2 separate regions of the Homo sapiens genome follow, and region 1 is linked to region 2. A link means that fine-mapping ties the variant in region 2 to the expression of a gene that starts in the linked region. Tissue or cell type: gastroesophageal junction. Region 2 holds a variant in brackets; the other region holds the start of a gene. All regions are shown on one strand. Distances are between the middles of the regions.

What was found. PIP is the estimated chance that this variant, and not a neighbour inherited with it, causes the effect.
Region 1: GTF2A1L starts here. The variant in region 2 is fine-mapped to the expression of GTF2A1L in gastroesophageal junction (GTEx, PIP above 0.99). The same link has a PIP of 0.9 or more in esophagus muscle.

What each region holds. Positions count from the first base shown.
Region 1 is chr2:48,616,261-48,619,021 of GRCh38, forward strand. GTF2A1L (general transcription factor IIA subunit 1 like) reads left to right here and starts at 1,596. Exons shown (of 9, transcript NM_006872.5): 1 at 1,596-1,635. The coding sequence starts at 1,615. The region is part of intron 3 of STON1-GTF2A1L (STON1-GTF2A1L readthrough); the gene reads left to right.
Region 2 is chr2:48,731,535-48,734,295 of GRCh38, forward strand. The region is part of intron 10 of STON1-GTF2A1L (STON1-GTF2A1L readthrough); the gene reads left to right. The region is part of intron 1 of LHCGR (luteinizing hormone/choriogonadotropin receptor); the gene reads right to left. Among named protein-coding and RNA genes, the nearest start is that of LHCGR, 23 kb to the right of the region's middle. The variant GATGGCAT/G (reference allele first, on the strand shown) is at 1,450.

The DNA.
Region 1 (2,761 bases), 120 kb before region 2:
TAAAATGACCATATATAGTTCTTGGCTTTTTGTAAAAGAAATTTCTAATAGTTTTCAATGTAGGAAAGTTTTCTAAAGGGTATCATATAAATCAGCTACTTGAAACTCACAAACCATAAGGTACCTGACCCAGGCAAATCACATACACAGTGGTAGGGGATAAACAGCTCTACTGCACTTACTTGCACAAATAAATAAATAAACAGCCAATTTTAAATATAATAGAGTTTTTAATCATCAAATAACGTATCCATCTGGTTAGGTCAAGACCTATTTGCAGGATAGAAAGGCTGTTTAGAAGAGTTGTGGCCAAGTGCGGCGAGTCATGCCTATAGTTCCAGCACTTTGGGAGGCTGCGGCTGGTGGATCACTTGAGACCAAGAGTTTGAGACCAGCCTGGGCAACATGGCGAAAACCTGTCTCTACAAAACACACACACACACTCACACACACAAAATAGCTGGGCGTGGTGGCACACACACCTGTAGTCTCAGCTCCTTGGGAGGCTGAAGTCAGTGGGTTGCTTGAGCCCAGGAGGTAGACGCTGCAGCGAGCTGTGATCATGCCACTGCACTGCAGCCTGGGCAACAGTGTGAGACCCTGCCAAAAAGGCAGAGTTGTGGCAACAGATGGTGACTTCTTCCCTTTTCTAATCCTCCAGGTTATCTGTGCTTACATCTTCCCTCAGTCTTAGCTAGGTAACGTATGCCCCAAGATGCTCTGCCCTTCAGGAGAGAGAATTATTGTAGGTAGACAGCTGGTGATTTCTGCCTAACTAAGAAAAGGAGATAGGAACGTATTAGCTGCTGACTTTCTTTTAGCAGTGGTTTTCCACCTTGGCTGCATATTAGAATCAGATTTTGCCGAGTGGGATCCAGGCACTAAACTTTTTTTTAAAGCTCCCCGCGTGATTTTAATGTGCACCCAAAATTGAGACTCTTTGTCTTAGGTCAGGGGGTCTCATGTCAGCGCCCATTGGAATCACCTGGAGAGCATGTTAAAGTTACAGAATGCTAGGCTCCATCCTCCAGTCTGATTCAGGAGGGCTGGGGTGGGACCCATCATTTGCATATTTAACAAGTTCCCAGATGCTGCTGATGCTGCTGTACCACGCTGACAAGTCTTAGAAAAATTTGGCTCTTGTTATATTTTTATACAACAAAAAATGGAGTTCAGCTGTGAGTGGGGTGTAGGGGGAGGAATGAAAATTGGTAAATGCAGAGGACAGATATCACTAGTCTCCCCTCTTTTCTTTCCCCATCTTCTTCAAAGCTGAAGTTAGACTGAGATCTACCCCTGCATTTCCCCTCCTCGATTTTCATCTTTCACGGATTGAGGAAACAACCTGTGAACGGCCCAAAGCCGGCTAGACCCAACCTAACCATCCGTTTTAGCGGGTCTCTTTTCTCACACAGGCCGACCGCCTCTCCGCCTTGACCCCCACCTCCACTCAAACCCGCTCCATCTATTAACGTTCTCTTCTGCCCAGCCACGCCCCCGGCGTTCTCCGTGGTTGCGCACCTGACGTACATCGTTCAAAACGTGCCCAGTGTTTCCCTCCGAGGGCACTGCGTGCCGCGCAGGCGCAAAGGGCCAGGTGCTGGAGGTGCTGTCATGGCCTGCCTCAACCCGGTGGTAAGGAAGACCTCAGGCTCTGTGTAGAGGGAGCGCCCTGGGACTCCGGGTTCACGGCAGCCGAACCCTGCACCTTTTGTTTCCCCCTGACACTTTACAGATTGTCATAAACCCTCTCTCTTCCTTAGGGGCTGGGGCTCTTCTTCACGTCTGTGTTGGAGGAAGCTGCTGAGGGCCAGTAGTTCAGCAGGAAGTTGGGCCAGCCCCGCCAAAAGAACAAGTGCCCTTTTTCTCTTTTTACCCAAACTGAGGCTATCTAGTTGGGGTGTTTAGAGGTGGAACTGATCCTCAACCCTGCTGGTTTCCTAGATACTAGAAAACCTCCAAGTTCGGTTGTGTTAATTTTACCGTGGACATTGTTAATTCCAAGCTGTATTATTTACTGCTTGAAATAACAATGTGATATCTCATGTTACCTCCCCACATGTTTTTAGTGTCTTTCACTACCCGCCCATTTCGTTGTCCTTTAACAACTTAATGCTTAAGTGTACAACCTACATTACCCTCCTACCTCTAACGGACACTTAATTTGCACAGTGAGAATTTCTAGTCTCAGTGGCACTTAGGAGACCATCAATCTTAAAAACCTGAATCAAAGAACAAAAATCAAGGATTCATCTTTATTACCAATTCATCTCAACAGACTTCACATTTCGTGAAAGGCAATGTGCCTGTCCAGATCTGTGTAATTTTATGGGTTCCGGGTATTATATATGCAGTATAACAGCTCCATTTTTAGAGACATGCTACTTTAATTATATGTGTTTTATGATAGTGCGTTTTAAGATACATAAAATACCTATACTCTGCCTGAATATAAGGTTACTATGTATGCCAATTTATCTGATTGTGAATTCTATGAAGGAGTGTCTGTATTTTAAATAGAGGAGTTAAGATGGACTAGACATAGTTTTAATAACAGGGATGCAATACAAAGTCTGTGGTCATAGAAGAGAAAATATGTTCAATACCTATTTTGATTTCTGAAAAACTGTGTTCTAATGGGTACTTTTTGACTACTGCTGTGTTAAGATTTTTTAGACCTAAGAGTTTTTTCCTTCGGTGTTAAGCGTGATCACACTAGCTGGGACTACCACTGAAGCATCAATTTAGTATGCCTTTATCA
Region 2 (2,761 bases):
GGCATACCTGGACGCAAATCTTCGCTGTCCCACTACTTGGCTATGTGATTCTAAGCATGTTATTTAAGCCCTCCAGCTCAGTTTCTTTGTCTGTAAAATTGCAATAATAATTCCTACTTCACAGGGTCATTGTGATAATTAATCAGGATAATCCATGTAAAGAACAGGGCTTGGCACCAAGTATATAGTTAAATAGTTGTAGAGTGATCCTATAGACTTGATTGGGAAGATGGACAAAAACTATGTTGAGTAGAGTGGAGACATTAATGATGAAAATACAACTGGAAATCATGCAGGCAGGAAAACAGAAGATTCATTAAGAACATGCTCCCATCTTGATCTCTACTGTCTTTCCCAGGTAGCCTATTTCAATATTATTCCAAAGAGACAACTTTGATCCTATGGTTAACTCACATGGGCATCTCATGTCATTTGCGGGGAATGTCTATGAGATCATTTCCTTCAGGCATTCACTTATACCCACAGGAAAAATCTAAATATTCTTGAAATTGAAATAAAATCTATGCTGTACTTAAGATTTGAGAAAAGAGTGACACTCAGAAATGCAAAACCAGTATAGGATGATGTGTGAATGCTAAAGGAACTGGAGGTTAAGATAACTCAGGAGAAAGCAACTGCAAGGCAGGGACGAACATGCAGCCAACATTTATTGAGTATCTACAATGGTTTAATGTTTTGGCCCAAGGACTGGCAGAGAGGAAGGGAGTGGGCAAGGATATTTCAGGTGGGAAGTGAGTATGTGAGTATCAGGAATATGAGAACAAAGGTGAAAGATGCTGTCTTGTTTTTAACATGTCTATGCAGCAGAGACTGCTTTAAGCTTCTAGGAAAGAACACCTCCATGATGGGCAGATGAAAGTAAGATTTCTTACAGTCCCAGAAGGGACTTGCTACAGTTGTAAGCTACTATGTGAGTTATACACACCCATTTGTGACCTTCTTTTACTCACTCAACAATGGTGTGAGGTGGGAATTTCTCTTACATAGCAGAAGAAATTGGGTCACAAAGAGACTAAGTAACCTGAACAAGGTTACAACGAGGCAGAATGACTCCAGACATCCTTTCCCTGTGCAATACTGGCCAAAGCATGTCACTCTTAATCCCATGTCTTGGTGAGCAAGGTGGAGGGACAGACATTGCAACCTTGCTTCTCCTGAGAGGAAGCATGTCACATTCGCTCTATTTCTTCTGCAAAGCGGTTTACCAGCCGTTCCTCCCTAGGTGCTAATAGGGAGGAAATTTCATTTCAGAAAAATATTTTCACTCAATAATCTCTTAGAAATGATATAACCTAGAGAAAGTAATCCAACTTTGGTCTCTGATTCTATTCCCGAAGGCATTCCCAAGAAGGACATCGTTTAACACCTAAACTCATTTAACAAAGGATCCGAGAAGAACAGGGACAGTGTGGGAAGAAATCTTCTTGT[GATGGCAT/G]ATTTGCTTCCTATATTTCTTCTGGAATCATGTTCGCTTGGCTTCCTGATTAAAAACACAGTTTTATTGCTCTCTGCACTGCCAAACCAATAAATTTACAGAAGAGAAAGCTGTATTCCACTGTACCCCTTGCAGCATCAATAAAACTGACAGCCAAATTCTGATTCCAGAATCTTTATTGCTGGGGATAATGCAGTGCAGAACATATTTTGGAGAGTGTTTACATAAAAGCTTCAGCAGAACACTTCAGAGCTGTTTATTCATGCAAATGGAGCCCAGAAGCTGAAGTCTCTCAGCAGGCAGCCTCCTCCTCCAAATGGGAGCATGGTGTGACTCCCAGAGGAGCAGTTTGGTTCAGATTTGATCAGGGAGGTTGCCTGAGCTTTTGATTGATGTAGGGAGGAGGGATGAGGAGCAAAGGTCGGACAGAAGTGCAAGAAGCTGTAGATCATGCAATGGCAGTCTCCAGTGGCTACAGAAGCAGCCCTGGTGCAAGCTGAAATTTTGCAGCGTTGATGTTGATGCTGCAGAGCAGGAAAGGCAGCAGTGGGGAGAGTGAAACTAGAGCCTCCCCTATAAAAGAGACACCAAGTGAACAGCAGGTGACTTTGTGGATATGGCTGGGTCAAGAAAGAGTCCTGGGGGCCAGGGAATGGGGAGAGAGGTGGGGTTAGGCAGGTGCACTGTGCTTTTCACAACAGATGTGTTCCCATGAGGCAACACAGAGAATGTGGTCCTGTGAATCGAAAACCATTTTCCCTACAGACTTATATGTTTTTTTTTTCAGAAATGTCACATCTTCATTTCTGATTCGTCTTTGATGGGTAGCAGTTCCTAAGCATTCAAGTATCTGTCTCCAGAATTTATTAATAAAGTTTATGATTTGTTGATAACTGTTTGAATGTACTCCCTTTGAAGGTGTCCCACTCTCTATTGGATGCATCTATGATTCTTTCCATGATGCCAGAAACTTTTAGCAATGTGAACAATGATCTTAATAACCCTGCAATTCCACTCCTGTATACATTGAGAAAAATTCTCAAATTGATACTTAAAGGAATCTTGTACAAACGTTTTCTTCACAGCATTGTGGCATCAGGGGCTTGGAGGCAACCTGGGTGTCCATTACTAGGTGAGGGAGTATGTAAAATTTGGACCGTACACACCTAACTGAATAGGAGAGCCTGTAGAAGTGAGAGTCTAAAGGCACACAGAGTAGCATGGGTGGATCTTCAAATCATGGAACTGAGAGAAACAAGAAATTACGGAGATATAATATACTGTTTGCAGAATTAAAATATATGT